Linked DNA regions of Homo sapiens: region 2 is linked to region 1. A link means that fine-mapping ties the variant in region 1 to the expression of a gene that starts in the linked region. Tissue or cell type: whole blood. Region 1 holds a variant in brackets; the other region holds the start of a gene. All regions are shown on one strand. Distances are from middle to middle.

The links. PIP is the estimated chance that this variant, and not a neighbour inherited with it, causes the effect.
Region 2: SLC1A5 starts here. The variant in region 1 is fine-mapped to the expression of SLC1A5 in whole blood (INTERVAL, PIP 0.99).

The regions. Positions count from the first base shown.
Region 1 is chr19:46,817,858-46,828,085 of GRCh38, forward strand. No RefSeq gene overlaps it. Among named protein-coding and RNA genes, the nearest start is that of SNAR-E, 7.7 kb to the right of the region's middle. RefSeq lists enhancers at 3,713-3,832, 4,003-4,062. The variant G/C (reference allele first, on the strand shown) is at 3,958.
Region 2 is chr19:46,785,136-46,794,243 of GRCh38, forward strand. SLC1A5 (solute carrier family 1 member 5) reads right to left here and starts at 3,459. Exons shown (of 8, transcript NM_005628.3): 1 at 2,265-3,459. The coding sequence starts at 2,830. RefSeq lists enhancers at 1-32, 1-116, 117-718, 719-1,320, 3,127-3,728 and 1 more and silencers at 2,537-2,586, 2,597-2,646, 3,617-3,776.

The DNA.
Region 1 (10,228 bases):
CTGCTTGTGGTGGTGCGTGCCTATAGTCCCAGCTACTCTGAGGCACGAGAATCACTTGAATCCAGGAGACAGAGGTTGCTGTGAGTAGAGATCACACCACTCCACTCCAGCCTGGGTGACAGAAAAAAAAAAAAGAAAGAAAGAGTGTATAAGGCTGGACACAGTGGCTTATGCCTCTAATCCCAGCACTTTGGGAGGCGGAGGCTTTCAAATCACTTGAGGCCAGGGGTTTGCGACCAGCCTGGCCAACATAGTGAGACCTCACGTCCACTAAAAAAAAAAAATACAAAAAATTAGCTGGACATGGTGGCACACACCTGTAATCCCAGCTACTTGGGAGACTGAGGCATGAGAATCGCTTGAAACAGGGAGGCAGAGGTTGCAGTGAGTTGAGATCACACTATTGTACTCCAGCCTGGGTGACAGACTAAGACTCTTTCTCAAAAAAAAGAAAGAATATAGTTCAGCCGGGCACAGTGGCTGATGCCTGTAATTCCAGCACTTTGAGAGGCTGAGGCGGGAGGATGCCTTGAGCCCAGGGGTTTGAGACCAACCTGGGAAACAGCAAATCCCCGTGATATGATTTGGGTGTGTGTCCTAACCCAAATCTCATGTAGAATTGCAATACTCAGCCAGGTGCGGTGGCTCACGCTTGTAATCCCAGCACTTTGGGAGGCCGAGGCGGGTGGATCGCAAGGTCAGGAGTTCAAGACAAGCCTGGCCAAGATGGTGAAACCCCGTCTCTACTAAAAATATATAAATTAGCTGGGTGTGGTGGCACGTGCTTGTAATCCCAGCTACTCAGGAGGCTGAGGCAGAGAATTGCTTGAACCCGGGAGGCAGAGGAAACGCACAAAGCAAGGCAGCAAAAGCAGAGATCTATTTTAAAGGAAAGCACACTTCACAGGGTGGGAGTGGACTCAAGCTAGCAGCTGAAAAGTGTCCGTTACAGAATTTTTGGGGATTTGAATACCCTCTGGAAGTTTCCCATTGGCCTGTGACCAGTCTGATTGGTTGTAGGAGAGGACCAATTCGAATGAAGAGTAGGCCTGTAACCAGTCTGATTGGTTGTGGGAGAGGACCAATTAGAATGATGCATAGGCCCGCAGCCAGTCTGATTGGTTGCAGGAGGGGGCCAATCAGAATGAAGAGTAGGCTCAGGACCAGTCTGATTGGTTACAGGAGGGGACCACTCAGAGGTACTTTCATTTTTCAACAGCCATGCAGAAAAAGGAGGGTTTGAAAGGGGAGTAGCCTCTGATATCCAGTCATCATGAATTGGCCTTAGGCTCTCTGGCTCCAGACCCTATTCTCCTGCCTCAGTTAGAGTGATGCAAGGAGGGCCTTGAGCTGAGGAATGTGGACAGCTTCCTGAAGCTGGACAGGGCAAGAGAGCCTCCAGGAGAAGCCCTAGAGTCTCCAGAAGGGATGCAGCCCAGCCAACACCTTGATATTAGCCCTGTAAAACCCATTTTGGGGGCCTGGGGCAATGGTTTATGCCTGTAATCCCAGCACTTTGGGAGGCCGAGGCAGGAAGATCGCTTGAGCCCAGGAGTTGGAGACCAGCCTGGGCAACATAGGAAGAGTCTCTACAAAAAATTTTTTAAAATTAGCCGGGCATGGTGGCACACACCTGTAGTCTCAGCTACTTGGGAGGCTGTGACAGGAGAACTGCTTGAGCCCAGGAGGCTGAGGCTGCAGTGAGCCATGATCAGGCCACTGCACTCCAGCCTGCATCATAGAGCCAGACCCTGTGGTAAAAAAAAAAAAAAAAAAAAACCTCCAGAACAGTAAGGTAGTAAATAAATCTGTCTCCTATGGAGCCACTAAGTGTATGGTCATTTGTTACAGGAGCAATAAGAAACCAATACCCTTGGCTGTGCACGGTAGCTCACCCTTGTAATCCCAGCACTTTGGGAGGCCGAGGCAGGCGGATCACCTGAGGTCAGGAGTTCAAGACCAGCCTGGCCAACATGGAGAAACCCCGTCTCTACTAAAATACAAAAAAAAATCAGCTGGGTGTAGTAGTGGTGGGCGTCTGTAATCCCAGCTATTCAGGAGGCGAGACTGAGGCAGGAGAATCACTTGAACCCGGGAGGCAGAGGTTGCAGTGGGCCGTGATCACGGCACTGCACTCCAGGCTGGGTGACAGAGCGAGACTTCGTCTCAAAAAAAAAAAAAAACAAAAAAAGCCAGTCACAGTCTGCATGGAACAGAGGAAGAGCGGGTGGAAGATGAGGTCAGACAGAGAACAGGGAGCTGGTGAGTCATGGTGAAGATGTTGTCTTTTAGTGAGTGTGGCAGGAGCCACAGAAGGGATTTGAGGAGGAGAATGACATCATGTCACTTCTGTCAAAGGATTCTGCTGCCATATGGGGACCTTTCTGTTGGGGACAAGGGCAGAAGCAGCGAGGAGGTGACTGCAATTTTCCAGGTGAGAAATGATCATGGCTAGACTAGCTCTGGGGGTTCAGACTTTGTTTTTGTTTTTGTTTTTGTTTTTGTTTTTGTTTTGAGGTGGAGTCTCGCTGTGTCTTGTCCAGGCTGGAGTGCAATGGTGCGATCACGGCTCACTGCAGCCTCCATCTCCCAGCTTCAAGCGATTCTCCTGTCTTAGCCTTCCGAGTAGCTGGGATTACAGGCGTGTGCCACCACACCTGGCTAATTTTGTATTTTTTAGTAGAGACGGGGTTTCACCATGTTGGCCAGGCTGATATCGAACTCCTGACCTCAGGTGATCCGCCTGCCTAGGCCTCCCAAAGTACTGGGATTACAGGCGTGAGCCACGGCGTCCAGCCTTTGGGGGGTCCGACTTCGGGTGCATTTTGAAGGTCAACAGGATTTCCCCTGGATGGGATGTGGGGTGTGAAAGCAGAGAGGAGTCATGAGCCCTTTCTAAGTTTCCAGACAGCATGCTTGAACACACGATGGTTTCTCTGGGGCTCAAGGACATTAGGCTACTCCTGGCCCTTAGCGTGTAGCTGTACACAGGAAGTGTCCTGCTGTGCTGTATTAATTAAAGTGGATGTTGTCAGCCGAGTTGGAGACATCCCGGGGGAGGAAAGGCCGGGCTGACCCTGGTTAACTTCAGGCAGGTGTCAGGCATGCAGCGAATGTCATCTTCCGCCTCTCATTCTCCCTCTGGGCTGGGCCTGCCTCTTCTTTCCCCAGCTAGCAAATAAATCATCTCTCCCATCTCCACCTGGAATTCATTCTCACTCATGTTTAATGAGGCTACCACACCCTTCTGCCAGGTGTGTCTTCACCCAGGTCGCTGATAACTACAAATAGGTTATATTTCAACTCTTTTGAGTATGCTGTGAGGTAGAGATCCAATTTCCTGCTGCGTGTGCAGAACAGAAGACAACTGTCTCAAACAAAAAGAAAAACCAAAACAATTATTTTAGGCCTGGCGCAGTGGCTCACACCTGTAATCCCAGCACTTTGGGAGGCTGAGGCAGGAGGCCGAGCTGGAGCTCAGTAGTTCGAGACCAGCCTGCGCAACATAGGGAGACCCCTGTCTCTGCTAAAAATTTTAAAAATCAGCCTAGCGTGGTGGTGCACGCCTGTAGTCCCAGCTACTAGTGAGACTGAGGCAGGAGTGATGGCAGTGGCTGCTGTCATTACACCGGCTGCAGCAGGGAGGTGCGGCTGGGGCTACACACTCCATGGAGCCGGTGGAAGCCCTGCCCCTTCTGAGCTGTGGTGGGAGTTCCCCAGATGCCACTGCAGCCGCCCAAACCGCCACTGTGGATTGAGCCTTCCTGTGCTCTTGCAGGGGCCAGAAGTAGGTAGGGTCTGCCCTCCCGGGTGCAGCTGCAGCTGCCCCCATGGCTGCCAACCTAGGCCTCCAGCTCCACAGAGTGAGCAAGAGCCGGGGACAAGTGGGAGCCCCACCCCTTCCGAGTTGGCAGGGCAGGAGCTCCCCGGATGCAGCTGTGGCCGCCCTCTGAGGCT[G/C]AGGACCTGGGCCTCTCTGCAGCCTGCACTCTCAGAGGCCGGGAAGGCCCCCCCAATCTCTGCAGACTGCTGGGTGTCTTCTCCTGCTGCCTGGCCTCTCTTCTCTCCCAGCGCCAGCTCTGATCTGGGATCGGGGTTGGGGTCCAGTCCTGGGGCCATGAATGGCAGCAGGAGGCAGACGGATTCCTGGGCAGAAGTTGGTGGGGGGTCCCTAGTAAGGCCCCACCTTCTTGCCAGGGAGGGCCTGAAGGCTGGGGGCCAGGCTGCCAACCCCACAGACAAGAGTGGGGACTTGTACCTCCTCTGGGCCCACGCATGGCAGCCCATGGACCAACCAGCACGTACTTCCTCCTCTCTGAGGTCCATAAAAGCCCCAGGCTCCACCAGAGCAGGGCAGAGGGCAGAGGACAGAGAGACAATGGGATTACCACCTGCACAGAGGAGCTACCCTCTCTACTGAGAGCTTCAGAGACCTGCAGAGACGCCTACATGACCTGCCTGCCGAGAGGAACCACCCTCTTCAGGGCCTCATCTCTGCTGAGAGCTGAACACTCGATGGGGTGACCTGCCTACTGAGAGGAGCTGCCCACTGACGGTCTCCTCTGAGCTGTTCTAAGACTAAATAAAGCTCCTATTCATCTTCTTCACCCTTCACTTGTCTGTGTACCTCATTCTTCCTGGACACAGGACAAGAACTTGGGCAAAGGCACTGCAGCCACAGAGGTTTCTGGCCAGAAAAGCAACACCCCAAAGATCCCGTAACAGGAGGATCACTTGAGCCCAGGAGGCGGAGGCTGCAGTGAGCTGAGATTGCACCACTGCACTCCAGCCTGAGTGACAGAGCAAGGCCCCAACTAAAAAACAAAAAACAAAAAAAGCCCAGATATTTTATAATAAAAAAAAAATTTTATGGCTGGCCACGGTGGCTCACGCTTGTAATCCCAGCACTTTGGGAGGCCAAAGTGGGCAGATCACTTGAGGTCAGGAGTTTGAGACCAGCCTCACCAACACGGTGAAACCCCATCTTTACTAAAAATACAAAAATTAGCCAGGCATAGTGGCACACGCCTGTAATCCCAGCTACTGGGGAGGCTGAGGCACGAGAATTACTTGAACCTGGGAGGCAGAGGTTGCAGTGAGCTGAGATCGTGCCACTGCACTCCAGCCTAGGCAACAGAGTGAGACTCTGTCTCAAAAAAATAAAATAAAATAAAATAAAAAATAAAGTGAATGGGAAGACACAGAGTCTAGCACTCTAGAAATCTGGGTTCCAGTCTCATCTGCTCATTGTGTGTCCTTGGGCAAATGATCTTCCTTATCTACAAAGAGGAGATAATACTCAGAATTGCAATGCTAATACCAAGAGCCACTTCACAGCGTCATTACAAGATTAAATGGGATTATGCCTTTAAAGCCTTGGAAGCTGCTGGGCCTAGAGCAGGAGCTCCCCCTAACAGTTCAGAAGCTTCCTTGAGGCTGGGCTCGGTGGCTTACACCTGTAATTCCAGCACTTTCGGAGGCAGAGGTGAGCAGATCACTTGAGCCCAAGAGGTTGAGACCAGCCGGGGCAACATGATGAAACCGCCATTTCTTTTTTTTTTTTTTTTTTTGAGACTGTGTCTCGTTCTGTTGCCCAGGCTGGAGTGCAGTGGCGCGATCTTGGCTCACTGCAAGCTCTGCCTCCTGGGTTCACACCATTCTCCTGCCTCAGCCTCCCAAGTAGCTGGGACTACAGGCGCCCGCCACCACGCCTGGCTAATTTTTTTTTTTTTTTTGTATTTTTAGTAGAGACGGGGTTTCACCTTGTTAGCCAGGATGGTCTCGATCTCCTGACCTCATGATCTGCCCACCTCGGCCTCCCAGTGTACTGGGATTACAGGCGTGAGCCACCGCGCCCGGCCTTGAAACCACCATTTCTACAAAAAACACAAAAAATTAGCCAGACTTGGTGGCATACACCTGTAATCCCAGCTACCCAGGAGACTGAGGTGGGAGAATCACCCAAGCCTGGGAATTCAAGGCTGAAATGAGCCATGATAGTGCCACTGCAGTCCAGCCTGGGCAACAGAGTGAGACCCTGTCTCAAAAAACAAATAAAACCGCCAGGCACGGTGGCTCACACCTGTAATCCCAGCACTTTGGGAGGCCGAGGTGGGCGGATCACGAGGTCAGGAGATGGAGACCATCCTGGCCAACATGGTGAAACCCCATCTCTACTAAAAATTCAAAGAATTAGCTGGGCATGGTGGCACGTGCCTGTAATCCCAGCTACTCAGGAGGCTGAGTTAGTAGAATTCCTTGAACCAGGGAGTCAGCGGTTGCAGTGAGCCAAGATGGCGTCACTGCACTCCAGCCTGGCGACAGAGAAAGACTCTGTCTCAAAAAAAAAAGAAAAAAGAAAGAAAAAGAAACACCGTCTCTAAAAATACAAAAATTGGCCAGGCATGGTGGTGGGCACCTGTAATCCCAGCTACTTGGGAGGCTGAGGCAGGAGAATTGCTTGAACCTGGGAGGTGGAGGTTGCATTGAGCCGAGATCGCGCCATTGCACTCCAGCCTGGGAGACAGAGTGAGAGTCTGTCTCAAAAAGAAACAAAAACAAAAACAAGAAGCTTCCTTGTTTGGTGGCTTTCTCAGGTTCCTCTTCGACTTTCTGTTCTCTAAACCCTGGAGCCCCTCAAAAGCCCAGAACTGACTCTGGCCTGTGCTTTAGTGCAGTTGCACCAGGGTTGCAAACACATGGCCTGAGGGCTCCATCCAGCCACCACATTTCGTTTGCCACCCCAGAGTATTTTTAAGTTTTTTGGTTTGTTTTTTTTTTGAGATGGAGTCTCGCTCTTGTCACGCAGGCTGGAGTGCAGTGGCACGATCTCAGCTCACTGCGGCCTCTGCTTCAGCCTCCCAAGTAGCTGAGATTACAGGCGTGCACCACCATGCCCGGCTAACTTTTTTATTTTTAGTAGAGATGGGGTTTCACCATGCTGGCCAGGCTGACCTCAGATGATCCGCCTGCCTCGGCCCCCCAAAGTGCTTGGATTACAGGCATGAGCTACCACGTCTGGCCCCCATGTCTTAAAAGAAAATAAAAGACAGGTGATCTCCACTCCACAGGCTCCACCACCCGCGTGGTCTTAAGGGCACCAACTTGAGTGGCTGTCACTCTCAGCTGACTGAGACTTACTCTTGCTTCCCATTTCACTGAGAAGAAGGAAGTCATTGGAGTAGGGACTTTTGGGAACTCCCCACACCAACACCACCACCACCTGCCTTGGCGCCCACGCACCCCTTCCTCCCAGATGCCTCTCGTGTGCTTGGATAATCCCAGCTGCGCCTTCCATCCCTCTCCCATCTCTTTCCTGCATCTTCCGGTTTCCCCTTGTCTGTTGCATCATCCCCATCAGCATAAAACTGATGATTTGAGCTGAGCGCGGTGGCTCACACTTGTAATCACAGCACTTTGGGAGGCTGAGGCGGGCGGATCACTTGAGGTCAGGAGTTTGAGACCAGCCTGACGAACATGGCGAAACCCAGTCTCCACTAAAAATACAAAAAATTAGCGGGGTATGGTGGCGGGCGCCTGTGGTCCCAGCTAGTTGGGAGGCTGAGGCAGGAGAATCGCTGGAGCCCAGGAGGCAAAGGTTGCGGTGAGCCGAGATCGCACAACTGCACTCCAGCCTGGGCATCTGTCTCAAAACAAAACAAAACAAAACAAAACAAAAACCTGCTGTGATATCATCCACTCCACCAAACACCCTCCAATCTCATTCCCCCCTCTAGCGACTATTTCTCTTCTCCCTTTATAGCAAAACTTCCTCTAAGGTTTTTTTTTTGTTTTTTTTTTTTTTATTCAACATTATCATCAGACACTTATATTTAGCCATCAACAGCATGGGTGCAAAACAAAAATCTACATTAAAACCCTTTGTTGGAATGCTTTGCACTTTCCACAGAAGAGAAACTGAAATAACCTGTTATACGATTAGTCACAAATACAGTCCTGGAGTTTTTTGTTTTTGTTTTTTGTCCATATACATGAGTATTGTCTCCAATACATCTTCCACTGGGTATGGTGGCTCATGCCTGCAATCCCAGCACTTTGGAAGGCTAAGGCGGGAGGATTGCTTAAGCCAGGGAGTTTGAGATCAGCCTAGGCAACATAGTGGAACTTCGTCTTTAAAAAATATTAAAAAATCAGGAGCCGAGGGTGGTGGCTCACGCCTGTAATCCCAGCACCTTGGGAGGCTGAGGTGGGTGGATGATTTGAAGTCAGGAGTTCAAGACCAGCCTGACCAACATAGTGAAACCCCATCTCGACTAAAAATATTTTAAAAATAGCCGGATGTGGTGGTTCACGCCTGTAATCCCAGGTACTCGGGAGGCTGAGGCAGGAGACTCCCATGAACTAAGGAGGCAGAGCTTGCAGTGAGCTCCAGCCTGGGCGATGGAGGGAGACTGTGTCTCAAAAAAAAAAAAAAAAAATAGGCAGGCATGGCGGCACGCACCTGTGGTCCCAGCTACTCGGGAAGCTGGGGTGAGAGGATTGCTTGAGCCCAGGGGTTGAGACTGCAGTGAGCTGTGATCATGCCACTGCACTCCAGCCTTGTCAACAGAGTGAGAGCCTGTCTCAAATCAAACACGGCCGGGCGCGGTGGCGCATGCCTGTAATCCCAGCACTTTGGGAGGCCGAGGCAGGCGGATCACAAGGTTGGGAGATCAAGACCATCCTGGCTAACACGGTGAAACCCCGTCTCTACTAAAAAATATTAAAAAAAATTAGCCGGGCGTGGTGGCTGGCACCTGTAAATCTCAGCTACTCAGGAGGCTGAGGCAGGAGAATGGCGTGAACCCGGGAGGTGGAGCTTGCAGTGAGCCGAGATCGCGCCACTGCACTCCAGCCTGGGCGACAGAGCGAGACTCCGTCTCAAAAAAAGCAAACAAACACAAAAAACACACCTTCTTCATAACAGACAGGCCCTGCCACCCCTGTGCCTGGCTGAGTTCACAAGTCTGTTTGTAACCTGAGCTTCCCTGTCATTTCCCTGGCTCTGTCTGCTGGCTAAGCTTCATTTCCCCAAAGTAACTAAAGCTTTCTGCCACCGCCCTGGCCACCAGGGCTGCTGGAACTGCCATAGCCATCTTGGTTTCATGTTTTGGCAAAATATTGGCCTCCATCACCATAGGGGCCAGGGCTTCTGCCTCCAAATCCTCCTCCCTTCATGGATCCAAAATTCGAAGACTGATTGCTGTTATGGCCAAGATTACTACAGCTTTTGCCACCTCCAAAACTACTTCCATCATTACTGTGATGGGGTTTTGTTTGTTTGTTTGTATTTGTTTTTTTGTTTTTTTGTTTTTGTTTTTGACAGAGTCTTGCTGTGTCGCCCAGGCTGGAGTGCAGTGGCACGATCTCGGCTCACTGCAACCTCCACCTATGGGTTCACACCATTCTCCTGCCTCAGCCTCCCAAGTAGGTGGGACTACAGGTGCCCACCACCACATCTGGCTAACTTTTGTATTTTGTATCTCTTCCTGAAACACCTGTGCAGACACAAACAGAAATAATGTTTTACCAGCTATGTGGGCACCCCTTAACCCAATCAAGTTGACACATACAATAAACCATCACTGCTGGGTGCAGCGGCCCACGTCTGTCATCTCAGCACTTTGGGAGGCCGAGCCACGTGGATCACCTGAGGTCAGGAGTTTGAGGCCAATCTGGCCAATATGGCGAAACCCTGTCCCTACTAATAATACAAAAATTAGCCAAGCGTGGTGGCAGGCGCTTGTAGTCCCAGCTACTCGGGAGGCTGAGGCAGGAGGGTTGCTTGAACCTGGGAGGCAGAGGTTGCAGTGAGCCGAGATCACGCCATTGCACTCTAGCCTGGGCGACACAGCAAGACTCTGTCACAAACAAAGAAACAGACAATTAGCCAGGCGTGGTGGCGCATGCCTGTAATCCCAGCTACTTGGGAGGCTGAGGCAGAAGAGTCGATTGAACCCGGGAGGGAGAGGTTGCAGTGAGCCGAGATCACGCCATTGCACTCCAGCCTGGGCGACACAGCAAGACTCTGTCACAAACAAAGAAACACAATTAGCCGGGCGTGGTGGCCCATGCCTGTAATCCCAGCTACTTGGGAGGCTGAGGCAGAAGAATCGCTTGAACCCGGGAGGCGGAGGTTGCAGTGAGCCGAGATCGTGCCATTGCACTCCAGCCTGGGTAACAAAAACAAAACTCCATCTCAAAAAAAAAAAAGAAGAAGAAGAGGAAGAAG
Region 2 (9,108 bases), 33 kb before region 1:
CTTTGGGAGGCCAAGGCAGACAGATCGCTTGAGCCAGGAGTTGAAGACCAACCTGGGCAACATGACGAAACCGTGTCTCTACAAAAAATACAAAAATTAGCCAGGCATGGTGGCATGTGCCTGTAGTTCCAGCTACTCTGGAGGCTGAGGTGGGAGGATCACTCAAGCCCGAGGAGGTTGAGGCTGCAGTGAACCAAGATCAAGCCACTGCATTCCAGCCTGGGACCGAGTGAGACTCTCTCAAAAAATATATATAGCAGCTAAGCCATCTACAGCACCTACCGTGTGGCAGGCAGGCATTTTGGCCTGTGCTTGACACAAATTAACCCATTTCATCCTCACGACAGCCTTGGGGATAATCACTATTACCCCATTTTACAGAAAAGGAAGCTGAGGCCCAGAAGGGTAAAGAAAATTGCCCAGCTGGGAAATAGCAGAGCTGGGATTTGAACCCAGCCAGCTGGCTCCATAGCCCCAAGCACTCCACATGCTCCCTCTCACCAATGACTGGTGTACAGCCAACGCCATGTGCCCATATACAATCTGTCAAATGTTAATAGTTTGGGTGCAGGTTAAGGTTCAGTAGTATGGGACAGTGTCCATGGATGGCCACCCATGCATCACGGTACAGTAAAATAACGTCATGGTAGAGGAATGAGTTTGGCCGGGTGCGGTGGCTCACGCCAGTAATTCCAGCCTTTTGGGAGGCTGAGGTGGGCAGATAACTTGAGGTCAGGGGTTCGAGACCAGCCTGGCCAACATGGCAAAACCCCGTCTCTACTAAAAACACAAAAATTATCCAGGCGTGGTGGCACACGGAAGGCTGAGGCACGAGAATCACTTAAATCCAGGAGGTAGAGGTTGCAATGAGCCAAGATCGCACCACTGCACTCCAGCCTGAGCAACAGAGACTGTCTCAAAAAAAAAAAAAAAAAGCATGAGTTTATTGGTGTGTGACCACATAGGTGTGTATGTGAGTGTGTATTGTGTGCTCTTGAGCCTGTGTTTAGATGTTGGCGTGGCTGGTGGCATCACTGAATGGCTGTGCTACAGGGGTCTTAGTACACAGTGAGCGTGTGTATGACCGCTGGTATCTGGCCATGTGTTTGTCGAGATGCTACAGCCTCAGCTGAGTGTCTGCGTGAATGTGTCCAGCTGTATGTCATTTGGTTATAAGCCTGTGTGGCAGGCCAAGTGTGAGCTACAGCTGTTTTGGCACGCAGGGGAGGCCTGTGCTCATAAACAGCCTCGGAGTGGGTGTGCCTGCCTGAAGGTCCGCCTGTACCACCCAGGCCCAGGCTGGGCCAGGACCCAGCTAATCTCCCCCAGCCAGAAGGTGCTCCCAGGCTTCAACTCGGGACACCAAGCCTGCCCCAGTCTCGCATCTCAGCCTGCACTGACGCCCCAGAGGCTGGAGAACCCTGTTCCGTGACTCATCATTTCCTTCCCCCAACTTCCAGGAAGTCCCCAACGTGGAGACACTGAATGAGCAAGCCCTAAAGGCAAGCGCAAGGGGGCCTCTGCCCCCCGCCCTCCTCAAAGTGGGGGAGGCCATTCTTGGGGGCGCGGGGCAGAGGCCAGGAGAAGGAAAAGAATCTGCTCCCCTTTCTAACTGGTCCTCTTCTGGGCTGCCTGCTAGGGGGTGGCCCAGACAGAGGAGGAAACGGGAGGGAAAGGCAGGGGTGGCAGGGCTGATCTAAAAGATAAAGGGGAAGCGGCCAGACCCCAGCTGAAATGGGCGGGAAGCGGAGGCCAAAAACAGAGCCTGGTTATGTCCGAGTGACACGTGGTGTGGGGGTGCCCCAGGGCTGGGAAGAGGGCCTGGTGGGAGTTACTCAGATCTCAGATCCTCCAGGGGCTCCTTACCCAAACTCTCCAACCCTGGCCCCAAATTATATCTAGAAGCCCCATCTTGGGGCCCTTGACCACGCAAAGATTCCCCCCGCAAAAGTTCCTCCTGGGGTCCCCTCCCCTCAGTGTCTTTCTCCCCTAGGCAGACCCTCCTATGTCTCCCCAAATCACTTTCTTCTCCCTCTATAAGACCCCACTTATGTACCCAGGCCCCCAGATTTAGAAACCCCTTCCCCAGGAGACTAGACTCACACTCCCGAGGGCTGGAGCCTCCCCTCAATATCCTGTCGAGTTTTCCTAAGACTCTAGAGGGAAGTCTCTGCTCCAGGGGCCCCAAAGCCCCGTCCTGTCCACGTGACCACTCCCGCCATCCGTAACACTCTTCCCCACCTCCCGGGGGAGCGGGAGCTGACCTCGCAAGATCCAGGAACGAATCGAGCACCTCCTTGCTGGGGGCATTTTCGGCACTGCCCGCGGCTCCCACGGAGGCGTTGATGGCGGCGGAGGCGGCGCCCGGCTGCAGAGCCAGCGCCAAGCCCACTCCGAGCGCCGACGCCAGCAGCGTGGTGACCAGGAAAAAGAGCAGCGCCCAGGCGCCCAGACGGCCGAGCGCGCCGGGGTCCAGGCTGGCGGCGCCGCCGATCAAGCTGCACACCACCAGCGGCAAGATGATCATCCGCAGCAGACGCAGCAGCAGCTCGCCCGGGAAGACGAAGGCGCTCAAGCGCTCCGGGCCCAACGCCAGCGCACCCCCGGCCCCCGACACCCCCAGTCCCAGCGCCACGCCGGCCACCACGGCCACCACTGTCAGCAGCACAAGCAGGTTGGCTCGAAGGCAGCGGCGCACCTGGTCCCGGGAACCGCAGTAGCCGCCTGCTGCCGCGCCTTGGTCCTCGATGGAGGCCAGCGCCAGGCCCCCGTTGGCGGTGGGCTCCGCCGCTGCGAGCCCCTTGGAGTCTCGAGGAGGATCGGCCACCATGATGGGAAGCACCGGGGTTTCTTAGCGCCTGGAAGCTGGCTGGGAGCGCTTGGGCTCCTTCCCAGGACCCGACGTTCCTAGGACTGAGTTGAGTAACAGCACCTGGAGACTGGAACTTTGGAGGGCTCCTTAGAGTTGTGAGTTCACAGCACTGAAGTTCCTTGGCTCTTGGAAGCTGGAGTGTTTAAATTCCCCAGGCTGGGCGCTGAGGCTTCTCTGCTCTGCCCCGTGTGCCAGATGTCCGAAAGCTGGGAGTTCGGAGCGCCCGGGTTCCTTGGCCCTAGGAGCTGGGAATACGAGAGTTTCTCTGGGTGGGACGTGGGGCCCTTGGCTCCAGGAGGTTGAGTGCCCCCAGATGGCGGAGGTCTGCAGGAGGCTAGGTTCTGGTGGCGCAGATCCCGGACGCCTGGATCCGGGAGGCGGGGACCCGGGCTGCCTGGGTCTTGGACACTGAGGGCTGGGATGCCAGAATCTGGGGGCCGGGAAGCGGACCTCCGGAAACAGGGGACCCAGGCTCTTAGGTCCGGGAGGGTGGGATGCGGGCCCCTGTGTACGGAAGGCGGTGGTCTGGTGTCCGGGAGTAGCGGTTACCAGCCAGAGAAAGCCTCCCGGGCGTGCCGCGTGGCTCTGAGCCCGTTTAGCGGAAGCTGCCAGGGATAAGGGTAGGGGGCGGGGCTTGAGAAGGCGGGGACCGACCCTCGGGCGCCGATTGGCTGCAGAGCGTTCGGAGACTGGACGAGTAGGGGCGGGGCTGATACCCGAGATGGGCCAGGTCCCCCATAGAAGGCAGATTAATAATACCCATCTCCAGGAGCCGGGCCCAGAGACGACGGGGCGGGGCCAGGAAGGGGCGGGGCCTTGGGAGGGTGCTGTTTCCCGCCAAAGGAACTGGGTTGTGGGTTGGAGCCCTTAAACCACAGGGGTTCGTTCCCTGGTGCGAGGGTCGCTAGAAAGCTCCGGTGGTCCTCGGTGATTCATTTGCAACTCAACTCAGCTTTGGAACTCCTCAGCCCTGAGTTTGGTCTTTAGTCGCCTCTGAGAACTTTAATTCCTCGAATATAAAGTGCAGGTGTTAAAAGCTTTTGTCTCATATGATTGCTGTAAGATTTAAATAAAATTGATGTATTTATTTAGGGAGCCGTGGCTCAAGCCTGTAATCCCACCACTTTGGGAGGTGAAGCGGGCGGATCACTTGAGGTCAGGAGGTCGAGACCAGCCTGGCCAACATGGTGAAACCCGTCTCTACTAAAAATACAAAAATTACCTGGTGTGGTGGCACGTGCCTGTAATCCCAGCTACTGGAAGCCTGAGGCAGGAGAATCGCTTGAACCCCAGAGGCAGAGGAAGTCATTCACCTTGAGGCCACACCTAGAGAGGATGACACGTGCATGCCCACCTCCCAAGCCCCTAACCGCACCCACTCTGCTGCCTCCCCAAATTCTCTGTTAGTGGCCGTTTGGGAGGTTAACAATGAATTATGATTCCTTACTCCACCTGACAGTGTTGAAATCCTCATTCCTTTCCCATCTCTAGCCTGTTCTGTGACATTTCAGGCTTTCATGCTTGCTCAAAGATTGTAGTGGTAATGTCAGAAGCTTCCTCCTACAGCAGCTGTGAGGCCTCAGGTAATTTACAACCTCTATGAGGCTCAGTCTTCATATGTGTAAATGGGAATAATAATAAGTCATACCGCCTTGAGTGTTGCAAGGGTTCAAATGAGATAATACGGCCGGGCGCAGTGGCTCACGCCTGTTATCCCACCACTTTGGGAGTTGATGCGGGCAGATCACTTGAGGTCAGGAGTTCCAGACGAGCCTGGCCAACATGGCAAAACCCTGTCTCTGCTGAAAATGCAAAAATTAGCTGGGTGTGGTGGCACATGCCTGTAATCCCAGCTACTCAGGAGGCTGAGGCAGAAGAATTGCTTGAATCCAGGAGGCAGAGGTTGCGAAGAGCCGAGATCTCACCACTGCACTCCAGCCTGGGTGACAGAGTGAGACTCCACCTCAAAAAAAAAAAAGTTATTTATTTGTGCTTTAAAATTTTTTGTTCTTTCTCTCTTCTTTTGTTTCTAACAAAAATGCCCTTCAGAAGAAAGTCAAATACTACTGCTGCGATTGCTGTTATTGTTATTATTACTGAAGAACAAGCTGGATTCAGTGGCATGCACCTGTAGTCCCAGGTATTTGGGAGGCTAAAGCAGGAGGATCCCTTGAGGCCAGGAGTTCAAGGCTGCAGTGAGCTATGATCGTGCCCACATTTAGCCACTAGACTCCATCCGGGGCAACATAGTGAGACCTTATCTTTAAAAACATGAAAATAGGCCAGGCATGGTGGCTCATGTCTGTAATCTCAGCACTTTGGGAGGCCAGAGTGGGCAGATCATGAGGTCAGGAGATCGAGACCATCCTGGCCAATATGGTGAAACTCTGTCTCTACTAAAAATACAAAAATTAGTTGGGCATGGTGGCATGCACTTGTAGTCCCAGCTACTCAGGAGGCTGAGGCAGGAGAATCGCTTGAACCCGGGAGGTGGAGGTTGCAGTGAGCCAAGATCACACCTCTGCACTCCAGCCTAGTGACAGAGTGAGACTCCGTCTCAAAATAAATAAATAAATATTTTAAAAAATTTTTCGGCCGGGCATGGTGGCTCACGCCTGTAATCCCAGCACTTTGGGAGGCCGAGGCGGGTGGATCACAAGGTCAGGAGATCGAGACCATCCTGGCTAACACGGTGAAACCCCGTCTCTACTAAAAATACAAAAAATCAGCCAGGCATGATGGCGGGCGCCTGTAGTCCCAGCTACTCGGGAGGCTGAGGCAGGAGAATGGTGTGAACCCGGGAGGCGGAGCTTGCAGTGAGCCGAGATCACGCCACTGCACTCCAGCCTGGGCGACAGAGCGAGACTCCGTCTCAAAAAAAAAAAAAAAAAAAATTTCACAGTGGCTTACACCCTTAATCCCAGCACTTTGGGAGGCCAAGGTGGGAGGCTCACTTGAGCCCAGGAATTTGAGACCAGCCTGGGCAACATGGCGAGACTCCGTCTCTACAAAAAAATTAAAAAATAAGCTGAGTGTGGTGGTATGCGCCAATAGTCCCAGCTACTTAGGAGGGTGAGGCGGGAGGATCGCTTGAGCCAGGAGGTCAAGGCTACAGTGAGCTGTAATCTCACCACTGCACTCCAGCTTAGGTGACAGAGCAAGACTCAGTCTAAAGGGAAAAAAGATTTAGGCTGGGAGCGGTGGCTCACGCCTGTAATCCCATCACTATGGGAGGCCAAGGCAGGTGGATCACTTGAGGTCAGGAGTTCAAGACCAGCCTGGCCAACATGGTGAAACCCCATCTCTACTAAAAATACAAAAACATGAAAATAGGCCAGGCACAGTGTCTCATGCCTGTAATCCCAGCACTTTGGGAGGCCTAAGTGGGCAGATCATGAGGTCAGGAGATGGAGACCATCCTGGCCAATATGGTGAAACCCTGTCTCTACTAAAAATACAAAAATTAGTTGGGCGTGGTGGCGGGCGGCTGTAGTCCCAGCTACTTGGGAGGCTGAGGCAGGAGAACTGCTTGAACCCAGGCGTCAGAGGTTGCAGTGAGCGGAGATCACACCACTGCACTCCAGCCTGGGCAACAGAGTGAGACTCTGTATCAAAAAAAAAAACAAAAAAACAAAAAATTCCTTGGCTGCTAGAGCTTGCATTCTAGTGCAGAGAGACAAGACAATAAACTTGGGCTTGGCCGGGTGCAGTGGCTTACACCTGTAATCCCAGCAGTTTGGGAGGCCGAGGCGGGCGGATCACTTGAGGTCAGGAGTTCAAAACCAGCCTGGCCGACATGGTGAAACCCCATCTCTACTAAAAATACTAAAAAATTAGCCGGGTGTGGTGGTCCACGCCTGTAATCCCAGATACTCGGGAGGCTGAGGCAGGAGAATCGCTTGAACCTGGGAGGCAGAAGTTGCAGTGAGCTGAGATCTCACCATTGCACTCCAGCCTGGGCAACAGAGCCAGACTCTGTATCACACACACACACACACACACACACACACACACAAAATCCTTGGCTGCTAGAGCGTGCATTCTAGTGCGGAAGAGACAAGACAATAAACTTGGGCTGTCAGCTGGAACTAAGCGTTGGGAGAAAGCAAAAGCATCCTATGAGTGACAGAGTGAACAGTTCAGCCACTGGAAGGAAGTGACATCTGCACTGAGATCTGAAAGATAAGAAGGAGCCCATGGCATAATGTGGAAACATTCAAAGGACGCGTGTGAAGCCCTGAGGCAACAGAGAGGTTTCCATCTCTGTTAGCAGTGCTCACAGACATGGTTTTATCCCCACTAATCCAGGAGACCAGCTCACACTCCCATTTTCCTGATTTGGAAGCAGATAAGGGTAATGAGGCTTGCTGTGGCCCAAACCCCAGGCATAAGCAAGAAATCTGAACTCAGATGTTTCTGATCCTTGTCTGCATCTCCTATCAGACACCCTGGCTACCCCTGCACTCGGCTGTCTCCAACTAGACATTTCCTTCAAGGGACAGTCATGTATTCTGAGCCCAGTGTTGGGTCCTGCGATGGGTGATACCAGGGACCCAGTGGCGAACAAGACAGTTCTGGCCCCGTTCTGCTGGGACTCAAAGTTCAGGGGGGGACACAGATAGTGATGATACAGAGTGGGCAGGGCTGGGATGGGGGAGCCCAGAAGGGATGCTTGACCAGGCTTGGGGGTCAGGGAGAGCTTCCTGGAGGAGGAGGCATCGGAGCTGGGATATGAAGGAGTTGGACCAATCCCAGGGAAAGAATATTCCAGACAAAGAGAATAGCACATGCAAAATCCCAGACTTCTGGCCAGGCATGGTGGCTCACGCCTGTAATCCCAGCACTTTGGGAGACTAATGCGGGTAGATTGCTGGAGACCAGGAATTCCAGACCAGCCTGGCCAACATGGCAAAACCCTGTCTCTTCTGAAAATAAAAAGTAAAAAAAATAGCCAGGACTAATGGCACACGCCTGTAATCCCAGCTATTCTGGAGGCTGAGGCAGGAGAATCACTTGAACCCAGAAGGCAGAGGTTACGGTGAGCCAAGATTGCACCACTGCACTCCAGCCTGGGCAATAAAGCAAGACTCTGTCTAAAAAAAAAAAAAAAAAAAAAATCCCAGACTTCAGAAGAGTCTGGAATATTTCAAAGCACAGATCTAACTGGGCCACCCCTACTCTCTGAACAGCCCCAGTGGCCTCCCTCAGGATGAAAACCACTCTTCAGCTAGGCATCTGTCCGCTTGGTGATTCATTTATTCATTCATTCAACAAACCACATCCACAGAATAGAAGACTGAGAGACATCAAATAGAAGGAGACGGATGCCCATGAGCTGACATGGGATCGTTGTGATGACTCATCTGGCCAATATTTATCAAACACTGAGAAAAACAGATGAGGAGCCGGGAGCAGTGGCTCACTCCTGGAATCCCAGCACTTTGGAAGGTTGAGGTGGGTGGATCTCTCAAGGCCAGGAATTCAAAACCAGCCTGGCCAACATGGTGAAACCTCATCTCAACTAAAAATACAAAAATTAGCGGGGCGTGGTGCTACCTACCCGTAATCCCAGCTACTCGAGTGGCTGAGACAGGAGAATCACTTGAACCTAAGAGGCAGAGGTTGCAGTGAACCAAGATTGCACCACTGCACTCCAGCCTGGGCGACAAAGCATGAAAAGAAAAAAAGGCAAAGAAAAACAGATGAGAAAAACACGAGCAAAACAGATGAAAATCCCTTCTCTGCTAGCACTGATATTCTAGCAGCAGGACACGGTCAATAAATACTAAACATAATATGCATGTAGGCTAAGTGGGTTATCTGGCTTGTAACTTATTGTCACAAAGCAGAAAGTGCTGTGGAGGGAAATATATATGTATGTATGCATGCATTAGGAAAAGTGAGGAATTAGATGAATGAAGGGTAAATTGCAATAATAAATCAGGCTGGGATCAGTGGTTCACAACTATAATTCGAACACTTTTGGAGGCCAAGGCAGGAGGATCACTTGAGCTCTGGAGTTCAAGGTTATAGTGAGCTGTGATCGTGCCACTGCTGCACTCCAGCCTAGGGAACACAGTGAGACCTTGTCTCTAAAAAAATAAAAATTAGGTGGTCACAAAAGTATAGAGGGAGGCCAGGCACAGTGGCGCACACACTTGTAATCCCAGCAACCTGGGAAGCTGAGGCAGGAGGATCGCTTAAGCTCAAGAGTTCGAGGCTAGGCACAATGGCTC